Linked DNA regions of Homo sapiens. The gene in region 2 interacts genetically with the main gene of each other region. Each region holds a gene or a part of one and is shown on either strand. Other genes may lie near its edges. The genes, in order: SP1, IL22RA2 and STAT3.

Evidence for each region.
Region 1: changes in IL22RA2 (region 2) and SP1 together harm fitness less than expected from each alone (positive genetic interaction), as found in Homo sapiens cells (one study listed by BioGRID).
Region 3: changes in IL22RA2 (region 2) and STAT3 together harm fitness more than expected from each alone (negative genetic interaction), as found in Homo sapiens cells (one study listed by BioGRID).

What each region holds. Positions count from the first base shown.
Region 1 is NC_000012.12:53,375,391-53,383,268, reverse strand, and holds the start of SP1 (transcription factor Sp1), read right to left. Parts: upstream 3,094-7,878; 5' UTR 2,978-3,093; coding exon 2,971-2,977; intron 2,626-2,970; exon of another isoform or gene 2,585-2,625; intron 1,611-2,584; coding exon 1,456-1,610; intron 1,160-1,455; coding exon 1-1,159. UniProt on the Homo sapiens protein: Transcription factor that can activate or repress transcription in response to physiological and pathological stimuli.
Region 2 is NC_000006.12:137,143,292-137,149,721, reverse strand, and holds the end of IL22RA2 (interleukin-22 receptor subunit alpha-2 isoform 1 precursor), read left to right. Parts: intron 1-1,830; coding exon 1,831-2,000; intron 2,001-3,948; coding exon 3,949-4,098; 3' UTR 4,099-5,902; downstream 5,903-6,430. UniProt on the Homo sapiens protein: Isoform 2 is a receptor for IL22. Binds to IL22, prevents interaction with the functional IL-22R complex and blocks the activity of IL22 (in vitro). May play an important role as an IL22 antagonist in the regulation of inflammatory responses.
Region 3 is NC_000017.11:42,385,388-42,393,361, forward strand, and holds the start of STAT3 (signal transducer and activator of transcription 3), read right to left. Parts: upstream 3,056-7,974; 5' UTR 2,892-3,055; intron 1-2,891. UniProt on the Homo sapiens protein: Signal transducer and transcription activator that mediates cellular responses to interleukins, KITLG/SCF, LEP and other growth factors. Once activated, recruits coactivators, such as NCOA1 or MED1, to the promoter region of the target gene.

The DNA.
Region 1 (7,878 bases), on a different chromosome or scaffold from region 2:
GAAGCTGGAGGTTCTGGAGGGTTTCCTGGGAGATGGCTTGAGTTGTAAAGGTCTGCCCTGACAATGGTGCTGCTTGGAGGGCCTGGAGGGCCTGTCCCCCTTGAACTAGCTGAGGCTGGATAAGAATTTGTTGCTGCTGTGTCTGCTGGTTTTGCTCTCCTTCTTTTTGCTGGCCTGCTTGCAATGAGCCTCCAGATGTCTGGTTTTGCTGGATGTTCAGAGCATCAGACCCCTGTAGCCCACTGACCCTCTGGGGTGTCTGGCCTTGAGAGTTGGTCCCTGATGATCCACTGGTAGTAAAGTTCATAATTCCCATGTTGCTGGTGGTAGTAGTAGTTGAGTAGCTATTGGCATTGGTGAAAAAGGAGCTGGAACTGGCTTGTGATGATACCAAGCTGGCAGAACTGATGGTAGTCCCTGAGGTGACAGGCTGTGAGCCACTCTCCTGGGACCCAGAGCTGCTGATCGTGACTGCCTGAGAGCTGGGAGTCAAGGTAGCTGCAGAAACGCTGTTGACAGGTAGCAAGGTGATGTTCCCATTCAGGGCCACTGGTACATTGGTCACATACTGAGTCTGTCCTGAGAGTACATTATTAGCCAGGCCTTGGAGGGGGACAGCCTGCTGGAGTAGGTTTGGCATAGCAGCAATGATGTTGCCTCCACTTCCTCGATTTGTGATAATCTGTTGGTTTGCACCTGGTATGATCTGTATTTGACCAGAACCATCCTGCTGCACTTGGGCCCCAGTGGCAGCAAACTGCAGCTGTTGCCCATCAACGGTCTGGAACTGTGGGATTACTTGATACTGAATATTAGGCATCACTCCAGGTAGTCCTGTCAGAACTTGCTGGTTCTGTAAGTTGGGAGCGGCAGCCACAACATACTGCCCACCAGAGACTGTGCGATTCTTGGAAGACTCACTGCCATTGCTGCCATTGGTACTGCTGCCACTCTGTTCCTTTGAGGTAGGGGTAGCCCCAGAGGAGGAAGAGATGATCTGCCAGCCATTGGCACCCTGTGAAAGTTGTGTGGCTGTGAGGTCAAGCTCACCTGTTCCCCCTGACTGACTCGGGCCCTGGGAGTTGTTGCTGTTCTCATTGGGTGACTCAATTCTGCTGCAAGTTGCTGCCAGCAGAGCCAAAGGGGATGGCTGGGACTCCTGGCCGAAAATAAGGGAGAGGAAAGGAGTTAGTGACACCCAGCTGCCAGCCTAGGGGGCAGTATACAACAAATAAACAGCAACGTAGTGCAGACAAGGAGCAAAAAACAGAAACAAAAAGCTGACCTATCTGTATTGCTGAAACTCCTTTGTCTTTGGGGATCTCCATTCTCTTACTTCCTTATCTATAAAATGGTTTAGTCTCTCCCTAAAACGCTTTCTGTGAAGAGTAAGGCAATTATCTAAGAATATTTACATCTTCTCAACACCTTCCCCACTCTATGATTATCACTTACCTGCCCTCCTCCTCCAGTGCTGCTGCTACTGCCTGTGCTGCTACTTCGAGCCTGTGAAAAGGCACCACCACCATTACCATTGCCCCCATTATTGCCACCAACTCCTTTTTCAATTTTCACCACAGCTGTCATTTCATCCATGGAGTGATCTTGGTCTAAAATAATTAAAAAACAAACAACGTAAACTTGAGGGAAGAAAAGAAATGAAGTAGGAAGGATAAAAGGAGGCTATGATGAAATAGCAATGACTAACAGGAAGGCGAAAGCCACCAGTATAAAGAAAATGGATTGGAGGGCAGAGGGGAGCTGCAGGGCATGCAGGACATGAACTAGGTTCAATGTGCCAAAAGTGGGCCTTAATTCTCCCTTGTACAAAATTAAACTAAGAAAACATTCAAAAAGTGCTTTGGGGATAGGAAATGTGAAGGACGGTAGGCATGGTGAGAGTTTCTAAATAAGAAAAAGTATCCTAAGGGAAAAAAAGGAAAAGGACAGGTAAGGCATAAAACAACATGTGGGTGCATGGAAAGCTTGCTAAAATTAAGTTTAAAAGAGATGGAGAGGCCAGGCGCGGTGGTCACGCCTGTAATCCCATTACTTTGGGAGGCGGAGGCAGGCAGATCACCTGGGGTCGGGAGTTTTGAGACCAGCCTGACCAACATGGAGAAACCCTGTCTCTACTAAAAATACAAAATTAGCCGGGTGTGGTGGCGCATGCCTGTAATTCCAGCTACTCCCGGAGGCTGAGGCAGGAGAATCGCCTGAATCCGGGAGGCAGAGGTTGCAGTGAGCCGAGATCGCACCATTGCATTCCAGTCTGGGTAACAAGAGCGAAAACTCCGTCTCAAAAAAAAAAAAAAAAAAAAAGACAAACAAAAATCCAAGTGTGAAAAGTAACGAGAGGGGAAAAAGAAGTAAAAAGTGTGAGTAGAAAAACATTTGTGAATACTGCTAAGGAACTAAAGGGATCTACAGGTTAGTAGTCAGAAGGTTTCGGGGCGGAGGGCGGGCCCTGAGGGAAAGGGCGGTTTCGGGGTGAGGGGCGTGGAAAGGGCGGGACGGTGGGGGGCGGGGGGGAAGGGAAATCTACGGAAAGTGGGGGGAGGAGGGCCTTGGAGCAGGCGGCGACCAGAGGGCGGACCAGGCAGGCGGTTGGCCCGGGCGGGGCCTTCGCTGCTCGGGCCGCCCCCGCGGCTCCAGCCCCCGGCGGGAGGAGCCTCAGGCGGGCGGCCGAGTAGTGGGGGGTAAGGCCCGTCCCCCGTGGCCGGGGCGGGCAGGGGGCGGGCGAGGCCACGCTGCCCCCTCCCCCGGGGCGGGCGGCCCATCCCCCTCCTCCTCGGAGGCCCCGCCACTGCCCCGTCTCCCTCCCTTCCCTCCGCCCCGGGCGGGACCTAGGCCGCCGCCGCCGCCGCCTCCCGCCCGCCCCCGCTTCACGGCGGGGATCGCCCGGTCGGCCCTCGCGCGCGCCCCCTCACTCGCCTCCCACCCCTAAGCTTGGAGTGGACTCATCCTTACCGCTCATGGTGGCAGCTGAGGGACAAGCTCAAGGGGGTCCTGTCCGGGGGGGTTGGGGGGGGCCGGGAAAAACGCGGACGCTGACGAGGCAAGCGAACCCGGACCGGACAGGGAGGGGGGGGTAAGGAGGAGGGAGCAGCGCGCCACAAGCCCAACCTAGGCCCCGCCCCTTCTCTGCTGCCCCGCCCAATGAGGGAGGGGGAAAGGAGGGACTTGCAGAAGAAAGACGGTGGAATTATCCAATGGCAAGACTCGCTTGCTCTCCAAGGCGTGTGAGACTAAGTTGCGTGCCTGGTGTCCGCCTAAAAAGACCGCCCTCTCAGTGTTAAAAGCCAATGAAGGATGCAGGAAGTGAAGATGGGCGGGAGCTGGAGATGATTGGCTTGGAAGGAAACCAGTCAACCGGCAGGCGGGCTCCCTGAGACGTAGGGATAGGCAAAGCTTTGATAGGAATGACAGAACAACGGCCAACCAGAATCCGGGATATGCTTGGGCAAAATCCTAGTGGGCGGAGAGGTAAGAAGTAGGCAGGAATAGGAGAGGATGAAGCTGATTAAAACCAATCAGAAATCAGGCGGGCAGCCAGGAACGTTATGATTGGAGTTAGACTGAAAAGAGACAGGAAAGGACGCATATTGACGTGAACTAAAAGCCAATTAAACGCCGAATTAACTGAGGGCGGAAACTTGGAGTGGCAGAGGAGAATTGGCGGCTCCCTCAGTTATTCAATCCAATGAGGGGACGAAGTAGGCCTGGCACCGCCTCCTAGTTAGCCAATGGGCGTTACTGGAGCTGCCCATCATGAGGGAGGGAAGAGGGCTATGCCAAGAGGAGACCGTCGCCATATTGGCCCTCCTCAGGGGACGTTGTTACAGTCATTAGGTGGGACGCTTTAGCGGAGTCCTGCAGCTCAACAGGTGTCAGAGCCAAGGCATTCGGCGCGCAGTTCCGCATCAACACTAGGACTTGTTTGCGTCTTCATTTAACTGCCCCTATAAAGTACCTCTCAAATCTTACCCCCCTCCCGGGTGGTCGGACAGGCGGGCAGATGCCTCAATGTCGCTGCAAGCCCTGGGAATGCAGGCGGGACGAGATCTGGTGACAGCACTCACCGAATAAGTTAATACTGAGCTGACCAATATGCAGAGTCTCCGTGAGACTCCAGAAAACGCGATTTTATTAAGTTCCCCCAGACAAAGGCGCTAACCACTTAAACGACTGGTTAACTTTTCAAGCCTTGAGGCTAAAGTGCGGATAAGTCACTTCCATTTTTTCCCCCTTAATAGTAAATACCGCCTATGCATAAAGCAAGATAGCTGAGCTCCAGCTTTTTGCAATCACGAAGGTTAAGAAACTTTACTGCAGGCACCTGGATTTCTGGCCTCCTCTTTATCCGTGTTTTGGTGGAGCCGGCCTTAATAGCTTGTCAATGACACGATGAGGTCATGTCCTTCAGTATTTGTATCTTATATGTTGTCACCTGCTTATATGTTCTTATGTTTTAAAATGTGAATTCTCCTAAACTATTTTAAGCCCTTTGAAGGTAAGAACTGAGGCCTCTGCTGCTTTAAACAGGTAAAAAGGTGAAGTGATTGCTGACTGCCTACCGTGTTAGGTGCCTAAGTCAGGGAGGCAGTTAGTATTCCATGTCATCCTTAAAAGGAAGATTTTATTAAGTATCAGCTATATTATGTATTTTATAAGTGAAGACATTTAGGCTGAGAAGTGACTTACCCAAGGTCACAAAGCAAATGAGTTGTAGTGTTAGATTCCAACCCAGAATAGTTCCACCAAAAGTTTTCTATAAATTCTTGAGGGAATTAAACTGCCGCCGGGCGCAATGGCTCAGACCTGTAATCCCAGCACTATGGGAGGCCGAGGCGGGCGGATCGCTTGAGCCCAGGAGTTAAAGACCAGCCTGGGCAACATGGTGAAACCCCGTCTCCACAAAAAATAACAAAAATTAGCCAGACGTGGTGATGTGCGCCAGTAGTCCCAGCTACTCGGGAGGCTGGGGTGGAAGAATCGCTTGAACCCAGGAGGTTGAGGCTGCAGTGAGCTCAAATCCTGCCACTGCACTCCAGCCAGGACAACAAAGCAAGACCTTGCTCCAAAATAAGTAAATATATAGACTGGGCGCGGTGGCTCATGCCTGTAATCCCAGCATTTTGGGAGGCCGAGGCAGGCGGATCACCTGAGGTCAGGAGTTCAAGACCAGCTTGACCAACATGGAGAAACCCCGTCTCTACTAAAAATATAAAACTAGCCAGGCATGGTGGGACATGTCTGTAATCCCAGCCACTTGGGAGGCTGAGGCAGGAGAATCGCTTGAATCCAGGAGGCAGAAGTTGTAGTGAGCCAAGATCGTGCCATTGCACTCGGGCCTGGGCAACGACAGTGAAACTCCATCTCAAAGAAAAAAAAAAAAGTAAATATATAGATGCTTTTTAATTTTTACTGTCTAGCTCCTGAAAAAAAAAAAAAAAAGCCTACTCCCAGGACGGATCAAATGGCATCATCCTCTTAGATACCTTTATTATAAAATTTATCAGAATACATGACAATTAATTTCATCTCTCACTGTATCAAGGTTTCTCAAAATGAAATGTCACACACTCTCAGAATCCTCTGGGTTCTTTTTTCAAAAAAGGCAGATTCCTAGATTTCCACCCTAAACCTATTTTTAAGTAGCTCTTTCAAGTGATTAGGCCCTAAACCTAGTTTAAAACACACCAAGAAGGCTGGGCGCAGTGGCTCATGCCTGTAATCCCAGCATTTTGGCAGGCAGAGGCGGGCAGATCACTGGAGGTCAGGAGTTCGAGACCAGCCTGACCAACATGGTGAAACCCCATCTCTACTAAAAATACAAAAATTAGTCGGGCGTGGTGGTGCATGCCTATAGTCCCAGCTACTCGGAAGGCTGAAGCAGGAAAATCGCTTGAACCTAGAGGCGGAGGTTGCAGTGACCGGGGATCATGCCACTGCACTCCAGCCTGGGCGACAGAGCAAGATTTGGTCTCAAAGAAAAGAAAAGAAAACAAAACAAAACAAAAACACCAAGAGAAGAAACTGGGGAAAAGAAACTTCCAGAAAGGGAGAAATTTCCTGGAAGGAAGAAACTGCATTACTCATCTTTGTAAACCAAGCTCTGAAGATTCTAATAGCTGTTTAGTCCATTCAGCAACTGTCCATACCTAAACTTGCTTAGGGGTGGAGGTAGGGAGAGGAAACTTAACACCGTGGAGGAGTATTCTAAACATTTCACATATTTATCTAATTTAATTATTCCTACCAATTTAAGAGATAGTTGTCCCCTTTTACAGATGAGAAAACTGAGGCTCAGATATTTTAGTTAAATTATGACTGTTCTGTTTAGTTCCAAAGCCTGTGTTTTTTCCATAGTCCTAGACTACACCCGAATTGGGAATTAGGATAAAATTAAACTGACAAAAAGACCTAAATTCAGAAATTCAATAGCCATCATCCTTTTTACAATCCTTTCCCCTTTGCTCCTCCAGAAGAAGACAATTCAGCATGAGGCCAGTGAGGAATGCCCTAGACGTATACTAGTTTATTGATAGTCCCTGAGAGCAAATGAATGACATGATCCATCTTGTCCAATTGCTCTGTAAAAACCTGAAAAAGTGTTCTTTAGACTGAAAAAAAAAAACAAAAACAAAAAAACCAACTTATATCAAGGCTATTCAGATCCCTTACATGCACACACGCAGTGTCTATCTTTTCTTTTTTTTTTTTGAGAGTCTCACTCTGTCTCCAAGCCTGGAGTGCAGTGGTGCGATCTCAGCTCACTGCAACCTCTGCCGCCCAGGTTCAAGTGATTCTCCTGCCTCAGCCTCCCAAGTAGCTAGGATTACAGGTGCACGCCACTATGCCTGGCTAATTTTTGTATCTTAGTAGAGATGAGATTTCATCATGTTGGCCAGGCTGATCTCAAACTCCTGACCTCAGGTGATCCTCTGCCCACCTCGGCCTCCCAAAGTGCTGGGATTACAGGTGTGAGCCACTGCGCCCGGCAATTTTTTTTTTTCCTGAGACGGAGTCTTGCCCTGTTTCCCAGGCTGGAGTGCAGTGGCGCGACTTTGGCTCACTGCAACCTCTGCCTTTCAGATTGAAGCAATTCTTTCTGCCTCAGCGTCCCTTGTAGCTGGGACTACAGACATGTGCCACCATGCCTGGCTAATTTTTGTATTTTTAGTAGAGACAGGGTTTCACCATGTTAGCCAGGCTGATCTTGAACTCCTGACCTGAGTTGATCTGCCCGCCTCAGCCTCCCAAAGTGCTGCGATTACAGGTGTGAGGCACTGCACCTGGCTACCTGGTTAACTTTTTGATGTTTTGTTGAGATCTCATTATGTGGCCCAGTTGGTGTTGAACTCCTGAGCTCAATCCCAAAGTGCTGGGATTACAAGCACGAGCCACCATGCCCTGCTTAAAATTCGTATCTTTTTTTTTTCTATACAGAGTCTCGCTCTATGGCCCACACTGGAGTGCAGTGGCGCGATCTCGGCTCACTGCAAGCTCTGCCTCCCGGGTTCACGCTATTCTCCTGCTTCAGCCTACTGAGTAGCTGGGACTACAGGCACCCATCACCACGCCTGGCTAATTTTTTGTATTTTTAGTAGAGACGGGGTTTCACCATGTTAGCCAGGATGGTCTCGATTTCTTGACCTCGTGATCCGCCCACCTCGGCCTCCCAAAGTGCTGGGATTACAGGCATGAGCCACCGGGCCCAACCATTTTTTTTTGTTGGGGGTACAGGGTCTCGCTCTGTTGCCAGGCTGGAGTGCAGTGGCGTGATCTTGGCTCACTGCAACCTCCGCCTCCTGGGCTCAAGCGATTCTCCTGCCTCAGCCTCCCAAGTAGCTGGGACTACAGGCGCACGCCACC
Region 2 (6,430 bases):
AACATAATTTTATTTAGGAGCCATATGATCAGACTTGTGTATAGAAAAGATCATTTTGACTATATTTTGGGGAACAGGTTGGATGCAGATAAGTGAAGTAGCAGGTTACTAATAATAGTCTACAGGAGACCGAATTTGGCTTATGAAAAGGACTAGAGAAAATTTATTCCTGGAGGGACATTTAGTAAGCAACATTGGCAGGACCAGGTGATAGATCGGATATAATGGTGAAGAGGACATGTCAAAGATGACCTCTAAGTTTCTTGCATGCATAATTAGATGAATTGCTGAGATCTTTTTGATGGGGTTTGATGAAAAAGACCAGTTTGGTGGGATGCAAGGTAATAGAGATTATGAGTTTGGTTTTGAATATGTTAAGCTTAATATGCTTTTAAGAGATCCAGGGGACATATCTCTTCAGATCCAAGACTCAAAGTAAAGTCTTTATTAGAGACAAAAATTTGTGAGTCATTTCATGCATACAGTACAGTGGACATTGATAGGATTGCCTAGGGAGAGAGTAGTGAGTGAGAGGCAGTTTTGAGTAAGACCAGATATTGAGGGACTTTCACCCAAAGATGCCTGAGTAAGAAAAATCTTAAAAGGAGACTGAGAAGGAATAGCCAAAGAGGTAGGAGGAAATCTGTGGGCTGATATGTTCATGAATAGTGCGGGAAGGTAATATTTCAAGGAGAGAGCTGTTAAAGAGTAAAGTGCTATGAGGTCAAATAATCTTGACTTGGTCTTGTAACACAATCACAATCCAGTGAATGGGTCAAGAAACTTGCAACTGATTGCAAAACTGATTTTGCAATCAATTGCAAAATCTAGCATCACAGATCATAAGCCAGGAGCCCTGTGATGTCCGCAGCTGACTCACTGATAGGACAATGCCTGAAATATGTGCCTCACTACAAAAGGGACATGTTTATTTAAAGTTAACTATCCCATTATTCCAATATAGTTGGAAAGTGCTTTAAAAACTTATGGTTCCAAATTAAATAGCCTGGGAGTAGGAAACTCTCTTCTTCTAAAACACTTAGAAATTCTGGATAAAACACATTCTCCAAACTCCACAGAGGGGCAAAAATAAAAATAAAGGGAATCCTTGGGGGCCAAAACAAAGTAAACGGAAATCAAAGGGGAACCAGAAGACCAACACAGTGACTGCCCCAGCTGCCCTGAAGGCATTTGCTGGATGTGGTAACTAGACCCTAAGTGGTAACAGCCACTCCCAGGACAAAAGACAAGGTTTTAGGCCAGCACAAGGCAGGGAGTTAGAACTAATACCCCTACAAAAGTCTTAGAACCTCCAAGGGCTACACTGTCAATAAAAAGTCAGACTAGCCTGGATGTGGTGGCATGCACCTGTAATCTCAGCTACTCAGGAAGCTGAAGGAGAATCACTTGAGTACAGGAGTTTGAGCCCAGCCTGGGCAACATAATGAGATCCTGTCTCAAAAAAAAACCCAAAACCAACCAACCAAACAAACAAACAAAAGTCAGATTAAGAAAAGCCCTTCCAATAAACAGAGGAAAGTAATTTGTATGTTTCCATCTTTATTCTGCTAAGAATCTAACACTCCCTACATTTATAAAGGTTCGAGATTCAAATACATATGCAATTTTCTTTTTTATTTTTGTTTTTTGACATGGGTTTCACTATGCCACACAAGCTATAGTGCAGTGGCATGATCATAGCTCACTGCAGCCTCGGCCTCCCTGGGCTCAGGTGATCCTCCCACCATGCTGATTTGTCATTATACATAATGCGTCTGTATATAATACATTCCTTTGATGATTTGTCAAATTTTTATGTTTTTTCTTCAGCAAAAATAGATCCTCCAGTCATGAATATAACCCAAGTCAATGGCTCTTTGTTGGTAATTCTCCATGCTCCAAATTTACCATATAGATACCAAAAGGAAAAAAATGTATCTATAGAAGATTACTATGAACTACTATACCGAGTTTTTATAATTAACAATTCACTAGAAAAGGTAAGTTCAGATGAATAGATATATTTAGAGTTTTTTTCTTTTGTTTATTTAACCAATATTGTGGTCATATGAGATGTCCTCTTCTGCTACTCTGCCTCCTCTTACTTTTCCTTATCTTTAATTTCTTCTTACTCTCAGCCATCATTGATCAACGGTTGGTGGTGGCATCACCATCAGAATGTGTGTGTGCCCTTTCCATCCTCCGGTTTGTCTCTACAGTCTTCCCTGCATATCTAAAGATTGGTATTAACCGTATTTAATTGCATGTGACTGCCACAAATATTCATTTTTACGGGCTTTGCACACCTTATTTATTTATTTATTTATTTATTTATTTATTTATTTATTATGTATTTTATTTTTAGACCAGGTGTCACTCTGTCACCCAGGCTGGAGTACAGTGGTGATCATAGCTCACTGTAGCCTCTAACTTCTGGGCTTAAGTGGTCCTCCTTCTTCAGCCTCCTGAGTAGCTGGGACTAGAAGCATGCCCATCACATCCAGCTTTTTTTTTTTTTTTTTTTTTTTTTTTTTTGTAGAGGCAAGGTCTCACTATGTTGCCCAGGCTGGTCTCAAACTCCTGGCCTCAACCAATCCTCCAGCCTTGGCCTCCCAAAGTGCTGGGATTGCAGGCATAAGCCACCTCCCCGGCCTCACACCTTATTTTAAAATAGCTTTTGAATCACATGATTATTTTTGTGCCAGTTTTGCTGCGATTTTTTTTTTGAGACAGGGTCTGACTCTGTCACCCAGGCTGGGGTGCAGCAGTGCAATCACAGCTCACGGCAGCCTCAACATCCTGGGCTCAAATGATCCTCCCACCTCAGCCTCCCAAGTAGCTGGGACTACAGGTGCATGCCACCATGCCCAGCTATGTTTTTTTGTACTTTTAGTAGGGACAGGCTCTGGCCATGTTGCCCGGGCTGGTCTTAAACTCCTGGGATCAACTGATCTGCCTGCCTTGGCCTCCCAAACTGCTGGCATTACAAACATGAGCCACCAGGCCTGGCCTTGCAGTGGTATTCTAATCCACCATCGGTGCTTCTGTCTGGATTTGGTGGATAATTGAATTTGTTCCTTTTTTGGTGCCATCTAAGATGAGGGGTTTTTGTCGTAAGGAGCAGAAACCACAGTTTAACTTGTTTAGAAACAAAAGAGGAGGGGAGGGATAATTAGGAGATAGGCAAGCAATCTCAGGGACAGAGGCAGGACGTAGAGTGCCGGCAGCCTTAGTGGTGACTGGGAAGGGAAACGGAAGTGAGTTCTAAGGGATCCTGCTCTGTCTCTCAGACTTTCTGTCTCTATGTGGCCACAGTTTCATGCCTGCAGTTATCTCTGCTCATCTCGCTGCACATCATTCTCACTGCACACTTCAAATTCTTAAAAAGAAGGCCAGGTGGGGTGGTTCATGCCTGTAATCCCAGCACTTTGGGAGGCTGAGGCAGGCAAATCATTTGAGGTCAGGAGTTCAAGACCTGCCTGGTCAACATGGTGAAACTCCATCTCTACTGAAAATACAAAAATTAGCCAGGCGTGGTGGTATGCGTCTGCAATCCCAGCTACTCAGGAGGCTGAGGCACGAGAATCTCTTGAACCTGAGAGGCAGAGGTTGCAGTGAGCCGAGATGGTGACACTGCACTCCAGGCTGGATGATGGAGTGAAACTGTATCTCAAAAAACAAACAAAATTCTTAAAAACAAGACTCTGACCATGGGGTCAACCAGCCAACAGCCCTCAAGGAGAAGTCAAGTTGCACCTACACAGCCACTTGCCTTGTCCCTTTACCAGGCTATGGCCTAGGACTCTAGAAAAGAAGGATGTGTCTGGGAAGAAACCCCACAACCCATCTACTGCTGTGACCATGTACAACTTGTTAATTTAAACAAAAATGCAGCTGTGACTTAATGGCAGCCATTTACCAACTGATTATTTTCTCTCTCGTGTGTAGGAGCAAAAGGTTTATGAAGGGGCTCACAGAGCGGTTGAAATTGAAGCTCTAACACCACACTCCAGCTACTGTGTAGTGGCTGAAATATATCAGCCCATGTTAGACAGAAGAAGTCAGAGAAGTGAAGAGAGATGTGTGGAAATTCCATGACTTGTGGAATTTGGCATTCAGCAATGTGGAAATTCTAAAGCTCCCTGAGAACAGGATGACTCGTGTTTGAAGGATCTTATTTAAAATTGTTTTTGTATTTTCTTAAAGCAATATTCACTGTTACACCTTGGGGACTTCTTTGTTTATCCATTCTTTTATCCTTTATATTTCATTTGTAAACTATATTTGAACGACATTCCCCCCGAAAAATTGAAATGTAAAGATGAGGCAGAGAATAAAGTGTTCTATGAAATTCAGAACTTTATTTCTGAATGTAACATCCCTAATAACAACCTTCATTCTTCTAATACAGCAAAATAAAAATTTAACAACCAAGGAATAGTATTTAAGAAAATGTTGAAATAATTTTTTTAAAATAGCATTACAGACTGAGGCGGTCCTGAAGCAATGGTTTTTCACTCTCTTATTGAGCCAATTAAATTGACATTGCTTTGACAATTTAAAACTTCTATAAAGGTGAATATTTTTCATACATTTCTATTTTATATGAATATACTTTTTATATATTTATTATTATTAAATATTTCTACTTAATGAATCAAAATTTTGTTTTAAAGTCTACTTTATGTAAATAAGAACAGGTTTTGGGGAAAAAAATCTTATGATTTCTGGATTGATATCTGAATTAAAACTATCAACAACAAGGAAGTCTGCTCTGTACAATTGTCCCTCATTTAAAAGATATATTAAGCTTTTCTTTTCTGTTTGTTTTTGTTTTGTTTAGTTTTTAATCCTGTCTTAGAAGAACTTATCTTTATTCTCAAAATTAAATGTAATTTTTTTAGTGACAAAGAAGAAAGGAAACCTCATTACTCAATCCTTCTGGCCAAGAGTGTCTTGCTTGTGGCGCCTTCCTCATCTCTATATAGGAGGATCCCATGAATGATGGTTTATTGGGAACTGCTGGGGTCGACCCCATACAGAGAACTCAGCTTGAAGCTGGAAGCACACAGTGGGTAGCAGGAGAAGGACCGGTGTTGGTAGGTGCCTACAGAGACTATAGAGCTAGACAAAGCCCTCCAAACTGGCCCCTCCTGCTCACTGCCTCTCCTGAGTAGAAATCTGGTGACCTAAGGCTCAGTGTGGTCAACAGAAAGCTGCCTTCTTCACTTGAGGCTAAGTCTTCATATATGTTTAAGGTTGTCTTTCTAGTGAGGAGATACATATCAGAGAACATTTGTACAATTCCCCATGAAAATTGCTCCAAAGTTGATAACAATATAGTCGGTGCTTCTAGTTATATGCAAGTACTCAGTGATAAATGGATTAAAAAATATTCAGAAATGTATTGGGGGGTGGAGGAGAATAAGAGGCAGAGCAAGAGCTAGAGAATTGGTTTCCTTGCTTCCCTGTATGCTCAGAAAACATTGATTTGAGCATAGACGCAGAGACTGAAAAAAAAATTTACTTTGATCTCTGTTTTTGAATTCTTATTATTTATATTTTGCTTACTACCTTTTTTGCCTTTTGTCCTTTTGTGGAGAGGGCGATGAATTAAGAGTAGTGGGGTGGGTGGCGAGTAAGTAAAATTTCAAATAGCATTTTAGTGAATGCAATTCAGTAGTCCTGAAGCCTGACTTAATAAAACAAAATTCATTTATGGTTGTTTCATGAAAGTTATTAGATAGGATCAAGTTTTGTTTGTATATTGTTTGCCTTGCTCTGTTTTTGCTTTTGTGCTTAGGCAAGTGCAAAATACTCTATGGAAATCATAATTGTCATCTTCTTCATGGTGTTAGGGATATATTGTCACATGATTTCAATAAATCCTTTTTTTGCTTTACATTTTGGAATATTTGTTATTTGAGCTTTTAAAAGAAGAACACAATGTTTAAGTCTGCCAGATGAAATTCCAGTTAAACATCTTAGGCCCACACGAAGTTCCAGCCAGGAAGGAGCAAACAGTTTTGAGCCCGACTGAGCTTGCCCTGTGATCAAATGCAATCCCAGTCTTACAGCTGCTCAGGCCAAAAGCGTTGAGGTTATCTTTGTCTCCCCGCTTTCTTTCACATCATATATATTCAATGCACCAATAAATTCTATTGATCTACCTCCAAAATACAACACTTCTCAGAACTACCTATTCCAGGCCACCATCATTTCTCCTCTGGATGGTCACTATGGTTACCTCATTGGTGTCCCCGCTCTGCTTGCCTCCCTCCAGTTTTGTCTTAACAAGGTGGCCAGCATGAGCCTTGGAACATAAATCAGATCATGTCACTTTCCTGCTCTAAAACCGCCAATAGCTTCCCATCTCATAAGGGTAAAAACCAAAGTCTTTATAATGGCCTCCAAGGCGCTGTATGATCTG
Region 3 (7,974 bases), on a different chromosome or scaffold from region 2:
AATCCCAGCTACTCAGGAGGCTGAGGTGCGAGAATCACTTGAACCCGGGAGGAGGAGGTTGCAGTGAGCCACGATCATGCCACTGCACTCCAGCCTGGGTGATAGAGTGCAACTCCAACTCAAAAAAAAAAAAAAAAAAGTATATATTTGTTGATTTGCACATCACCTAAGAAAACCATAAGCTAAGAAGGTTTGGACTCAGGCGTCTGGAAAGTTGGTCACCACCTCTACCCCACCTCATATCTGAATGTCAAGAGACACGTAGAGGCAGAGAAGTTAAAGCAACTTTCTAGAGACAGAAATGACCACTGATCAAGCCACAATGCACTCTGGTTTAAATGACATTTAGGTCATGACTGTCCTTAATCTAAAACAAACCTAGATTAGTATTTCTTTTCATTAGTAAATAGCTAAATTCTGATGGTAAATTATGCTGACCAAAAACAGTTCCTCACTTCCCAAGTTAGACATAGCAATTAGAAAAATAATCTAAGCAAGCTCCATTTGTATTTCTTTTTTCACCTGTTTATTGAATATTTACCTCCCATGAAGTCTTTCAGCCTATTGGTGGTATTTTACTGTTCAGATATATGTTAGAATTTCACTGATACTTACTGGGCGCGGTGGCTCACACCTGTAATCCCAGCACTTTGGGAGATAGAGGTGGGCAAATCACAAGGTCAGGAGTTCAAGACCAGCCTGGCCAATATGGTAAAACCCCGGTCTCTACTAAAAATACAAAAATTAGCTGGGCGTGGTGGCGCACGCCTGTAGTCCCAGCTACTTGGGAGGCTGAGGCAGGAGAATCGCTTGAACCCAGGAGGCAGAGGTTGCAGTGAGCCAAGATTGCGCCACTGCACTCTAGCCTGGGCAACAGAGCAAGACTCTGACTCAAAAAAAAAAAAAAAAAGAATTTCACTGATACTTTTCACAAAATATACAGAAGGAGGCACAAATTCCACCACTATGGCACTCTGCTGCGTTGGCCAAGTGTCTTGATCCTTTGGCCTCAATTTTCTTATCTACGATATTAGGGTAATTGTTATGTGAACTACCCACCTCACAAGTCCTTTGTGGGTTAATTCATAACTGTGCTGTGGGTATTTCTTTTTCTTTCCTTTCTTCCTCCTTTCCTTTCTTTCTTTCTTAAAGATGGGTTCTCATTATGGTGCTTAGACTAGACTCTAGACCCAATTCCTGGCCTCTCACCATGTTGCCCAGACCAGACTCAACTCCTGGACTCAAGGAATCCTCCCACCTCAGCCTTCAATTAGCTGGGATCAGAGGTGTGCACCACCATGCCTGGCACTGTGGATATTTCTAAGTGATTATTCTTCTCAAATGAACTACATAAAAAACAAAAGATTCATGAATTTACTAATGGTTCTTTGTGATGGATGTGCTAATATAGAGACTAAAATCAAGGCTCCAACCTCTAAAACATTTTTTTTTAAATTCCAGACTTGTTTCCCCATCCCACTGTGCAAACTGAACAAAAACTGGGCTAGCACTCCTGTCTGGAACATGTAATAAGGAAATAAATGTGCTGACTCAGAGAACACAGACATATTTAATATAAAATAAGATAGAAAACTGGCTGAACCAAGTCATAACACAGTCTAAATCCACATATAAAAGATTGAGATGATTTTCTGCTTTGCTTTATTCAAGCCCAATGCTTTATCAGCACAGCCAGCCAAAAATTTACAACCCATACACAGACTATGTAAACCTTTAGTTGCACATACAGTAAGACCAGCAGGTACACACTATACACATTTTTAATTAAAAAAATGACTAACCACTGATTTTGTCACCACACTTAACAACGACCTGATATGGCACAGAGTGATGTGTACCAAACATGGAAATACCAACTTGGGCGACGGTTTGAATCTTGTTAACTTCAGTGCAACCACACCCCCCAAATGCATGTAAAGTTTGCACACATGGTTTTTTCAAGGCCAGCCTGTCTTTGTTTCCCTCTCCTCTGCATTTACCCAAGATCTTGGCTCTGAGACAGAAAACTCCCACTCTCAATTGGTTCATTCCGTCCTATGCAATTAAGCAACACCACAATCCAGTAAATGCAATGGCTCAATTATTTATCTTCTGGCCGACTTTACCAGGTATTTGGAAAAGGACAATGTCAAGAGGTTTATTTCTCTCTCTAGAGCTGGCTTGACGGGTTGATGGGGATTTTATTTTGTCTTTTTTTCTCTTTTTTACAAGGCGGGGACGTGGGGGGAGCATAATTTAACCTAGAAAAAGATGCGAGGGAATTTAGAAAGAGTACCGGTCTGTCAATTTCCCTACAGGAAACTTGATTCTTATGCAATAAAGCCTACCCACGACCAGCCAGCCCGTAAGGCTGCAGGCGACAGACACACCTATTCCTGCCTCCAAAAGGGCACAGCTGTCTCCTGAAGGAGCGGGAACAGGGCAAGCGGAGGAAGTGGCTCAGCGGGAGCCGCCGACCGGGCGGGGAGGAGGCGCTTTCCGACCCCCCACTCGCGCCGGTGATCCCCGTCGGCGTGACAGTCGCTCCGGTGGCCGGAACGTCCCCAGGGCCCCAGGGAGCAGGAAATCGGGGGACTGTCCCTCACTCCTGCCGCCGCAACCGAGTGCGCCCTCGCCCCACGGTGCCCCCTCGAGCGCGTTCTGTTTCTCCGAAGAACGAAACTTCCCTCCAGCGCCCCGAGTCCCTTCCGAGGCCCGCTCCTGTCATCCCGAAGAGTCTTCCCTCAGGGCGACCCTCCGCGTCTCTTCATCTCTCCCGGCCCCACTGCAGCGTCCATCACAACATCCCCAAGGTCCCAGAGGCCCCCTGCCGCTGCGGAGCCCCCGGGTCCCCAGGCCTCCCCAACGGCCCCACCCTGCACCCCCTTCACCTGTTTCTCCGGCAGAGGCCGAGAGGCCGGGGCTGCGCGTGTGCCGGGGACGGGCGGCGAGGCTCCCTCAGGCCGAAGGGCCTCTCCGAGCCGAGGGGGAGAGACAGCGCCAAGCCGGGGTGCCTGTCCAGGATCCGGTTGGGGCTTGTTCCCTCGGCTGCGACGTCGGAACCCCCGGCTCCCCCTCCCAGTCTGCGCCGCCGCAGCTCCGGAAACCGCTGAATTACAGCCCCTTCAGCCAATCCTCGCCCAGCCCCAGCCTGGCCGAGGCACGCCGTCATGCATAATTCATGAAAGGCCAGCTCGTTCGGCCACCCAGAGGTCCCAGTGCGTGTGCGGTACAGCCGAAGCCCCGCCCACTGACCAATGAGGAGAGCAGCTAGGAGAAAGGGCGGAGCCAAGAGGAGACTGATACGCCCCTGTGCTGGCTGTTCCGACAGTTCGGTGCTCCTCCCTCCGCCACAGCGAGGGAAGAGCCGAGGACTTGGGCACAGAAGCCCGGGGGGAGGGAGGGAAGATGACCGGAATGTCCTGCTGAAAACTCAGCTGAGTTCCTGGCAGTGCGTGACGTCAAGGCACTTTAAATGCCCCTGATACAGCTCCCTCCTGCCCGCTCTCCCTTTTCCCGGCCCTTGGCACCACGTGGTGGCGAGGTTGAGAGCCTCTTACCACGCGGGAATCAGCTAGTTAGATAGTCCCCAGGTATCTCCAGATCCTCTGGGGACCCAACTCCTGAATTGGGTTCTGGGGACAACAAAAAGAACATGGGTGACTCCGCCTGCTTTGAACTTCAGTTTCTGCGTGAGCAGGGACACACACACCCGGAAACATGACGTGGAAATAGAGTAATTACTAGAGTGCGTGGGGAGAGGGTAGTGGATTTAACCCCGTACTCCGTTCCATCACTTCAAGCATCAAACGCCGACCAGCTAGCCCATTGGCCCGTACAGGCGAATGCAGAAGACGGTGTATACGAAAGCTGATAACGTGTAGGGCTTGACATTTTTATGCGTCTGAATTGAAATACATGAAATGTTCTGCCTTTTTCTTTTCCACCTTGCCTACTTGGTATGCAAGTTTTACTGAATTGAAGCCAGTGGTTGATAGGAAATGTAGACATTTTGCCTTTCATAATAGAGGATGAACTTTGCATAATGGAGTGATTTCTGTGTATGTGCTGATACTATCAGGGTTTTTAATTTTTATTTTTTTGGGTCTTTAAAAATATGTTATTAATATTTGTGTTTGTTTAATACGAACAGGTATAAAGACAAAAATCTAAAAAGGACCCATTATCTCACTGCTCAGCTAACCCCTGACATATTTTTTTTCAATGAACCTAATACATGTTCCTGTTTAGAAAATGCAGACCGTTCAGAAAGGTCAAAAATATTAAATGAAAATCTTTCCCTACCCCCATCATTCCTTCTCCCCAAGGATAGCTGTTCTTATTAATTTCTAGTGAGAAAAATCAATGACTCTTAACCTTTGAAGGCAGTCACAGATCCTTCTGAGTGTTTGAAGGAGACTAGATTCTAGCCCCAGAAACAATACAAGGTTTTACTCACATGGTTCCCCAGATACCTGAAGCCTGTCTAAGTCTACAGATTCAGACCGCTCGTACCACCTCATATCCAATGAGGGACAGAGGCATCTACAGGGCAATTCATAGGGTCACTGGTGGTGAGAATTGAGAACCTCCTATTGCCCTCTGGTAGACACAGCTCAGTATGGAAATTGCTGTATTTACCTGTAGAGTGTGTGTGTATTGATTAGGCTGTTTATCTACACCACAGGACAGATATCCCCCATCTCCGCCTATAGTCTCTTGTAACTACGCTATCCCGTGCGGCCAACTGCCTCCCTGATAACATAGGGTCTAGGATTTGTTTAGTGATTTACTGCTTACAAAGGACTTACACACCTTATACACTCCCTGCCTGGTTTCTTTCTCACAATCATGAATAGCAGATAGGAGAGGCCATATTATCCGCTGATAGAAAACTAAAGACAACATAATATGACATTTTCAAGATCACAGAGAAACTCAGAAATATACCAGGTTCAGAGTCAGGTTTGGGGGCTTTACGTCCCATAGCTTTGTTCCATTCATTCAAACCCTGCCCTGCTTCTGACTTCTCAAGAGCTGGCCTCTGTTTCCCTCATTGGCCTCCCCACCAGTAACACATAAAATCTACCTCTGCGACTATGGGTTTGACCTGCAAAAATTCTCTTCAGCCCAGACACTGGCCTTTCTCCACAACCCCGCCAAATTCCTCTTGGCTAAATGCTGCAATTTCTGTCCCTTGGGCCACTGCCTTAACCACCTGATTATTCTCTCCTTATTCTATCCTATTCTTCCACTGGCTGCCAGGGACATCATCCTAAAAATTAAATAAATAAACATTCAGGCCAAGGCGGGTGGATCACAAGGTCAGTTCAAGACCAGCCTGGCCAACACAGTGAAACCCCGTCTCTACTAAAAATACAAAAATTAGGCTGGGCACTGTGGCTCACGCCTGTAATCCCAGCACTTTAGGAGGCTGAGGCGGGCAGATCACCTGAGGTCAGGAGTTCGAGACCAGCCTGACTAATATGATGAAACCCTGTCTCTACTAAAAATACAAAAATCAGCCAGTCATGGTGGCTTGCACCTGTAATCCCTGCTACTCGGGAGGCTGAGGGAAGAGAATCTCTTGAACCCGGGAGGTGAAGGTTGCAGTGAGCCGAGATCGCGCCATTGCATTCTAGCCTGGACAACAAGAGCGAAACTCCATCTCAAAACAAAAGTAAAAATTAGCTAGCCATGGTGGCACGTGCCTGTAGTCCCAACTACTCAGGAGGCTAAGGCAGGAGAATTGCTTGAACCCAGGAGGTGGAGGTTGCAGTGAGCCCAGATCCCTCCACTGCACTCCAGCCTAGGCGATAGAGCAAGACCCTGGCTCAAAAAAAAAAAAAAAAAAAAATTCAATCATGTCACAGTCGGCTTAAAAATCTCTATGGTTCCCTACTACCGGCAAGATAAAATCCAAGTTAATTTTTTTTTTTTTTTTTTTTTTTGAGACAGAGTTTCCTCTTGTCGCCTAGGCTGGAATGCGATGGTATGATCCTGGGTCACTGCAACCTCCGCCTCCCAGGTTCAAGCAATTCTCCTGCCTCAGCTTCCCAAGTAGCTGGGACTACAGGTGCCCACCACCATGCCCAGCTAATTTTTGCATTTTTAGTAGAGACGGGGTTTTACTGTGTTGGCTAGGCTGGTCTTGAACTCCTGACCTCAAGTGATCCGCCCACCTCAGCCTCCCAAAGTGCTGGGAGCCACCGTGTCCGGCCAATCCAAGTTAAATTTTAAAAATGCTGACCAGGCACAGTGGCTCATGCCTGTAATCCTAAAGCTTTGGGAGACCGAGGCAGGAAGATCATTTGAGGCCAGGAGTTCGAGATCAGCCTGGGCAACATGGCAAAACACCAACTTTACAAAAAATTAGCCGGGCGTGGTGGTGGCATGCCTGTAGTCCCAGCTATTCTGAGGACTGAGGCAGGAGGATCACTTGAACTTAGAAAGAAGTTCGAAGTTACAGTGAGCTATGACTGTTCTACTGTACTGTAGTCTGAGCAACAGAACAAGACCAACCTTGTCTCAAAAACAAACAATAAACAAAAAGCTGACCATTTAATTCAGTGCCATGGCTGGGCGCGGTGGCTCATGCCTGTAATCCCAGCATTTTGGGAGGCCGAGGCGGGCGAATCCTGAGGTCAGGAGTTCGAGACCAGCCTGGCCAACATGATGAAACCCCGTCTCTACTAAAAATACAAAAAAATTAGCTGGGCATAGTGGCGGGTGCCTGTAATCCCAGCTACTTGGGAGGCTGAGGCAGGAGAATCGTTTGAACCCGGGAGGCAGAGGTTGCAGTGAGCCGAGATCATGCCACTGCACTCCAGCCCAGGCAACAAAGTGAGACTCTGTCTCAAAAAAAAAAAGAAAAAAGAAAAAAACACCATAATTCAGTGCCATGCATGTGGTAGGAGCTCAATTGATGTTCCTTCTTTCTCCCTCTTTATTTGAATCATAAAATCCTACAGGCCCAGCACAGTGGCTCACGCCTGTAATCTCAGCACTTTGAGAGGCCGAAGCGGGTGGATCACCTGAGGTCAGGAGTTCAAGACCAGCCTGACCAACATGGTGAAAGTCTGTCTCTACTAAAAATACAAAAATTAGCCAAGCGTGTTGGCGGGCACCTGTAATCCCAGGTACTCGGTAGGGTGAGGCAGAAGAATCGCTTGAACCCAGGAGACAAAGGTTGCAGTGAGCTAAGATTGCACCATTGCAATCCAGCCTGGGTAATACAGTGAGACTCTGTCTCAAAAAAAAGATAAATTCCACAAAGGCTGACCTGAATCCCCCCTTTTCTAACCTAGTCCCACAAACCCTACTAAATGTGTTACCTTCCTCCAAACATGTCTACACCTTCTGCAACTTCATGCCTCTGTGGATAGTCTTCCTTCTACCTGGAATCTCTTTCCTCAGTCCCTACCTGAGAACTCTTACTCATTCTTCAAAGCCCTGTTGCAACATCACCTCCTCTAGGCTTCCTTCTATTCTTACTGGCAAAGTTAATCTCCTACCAGACTCCTTCGGCAGGTTGTTTCCCCATCTAGAATACATTCTCTACCTTGAATTCTAATAAATCCACATATTGGCCTACTTCCTGAAAAAAAACAATAATTAACATTGATTAAGTAATTACTACTATATTCCAGGAACTGTGCTAAGCATTTTACATAGATTATCTCATTTGATCCTCACCAGAACCCAGTGAGGGTAATATTATAATTCTTATTTTACAATTGAGGAAACGAAGACTGAGAAAGTGAAAGACTGGCTCAAGACTGGTCTCACAGCTAGAAACTAGGTGGAAACTCAGAATGAAAATCAGGTCTGGCTGACTCTCTGGCCACGTGCTAACAAACATCTTCCCCTAAACTGTGGGTTCCTGGAAACTTGAACCCCTTAAGCCCTGTCTTCATAATCTCAGCATCTATCATCTAGCCTAGAGCTCACCTAAGACTGAATTAATTAAATATT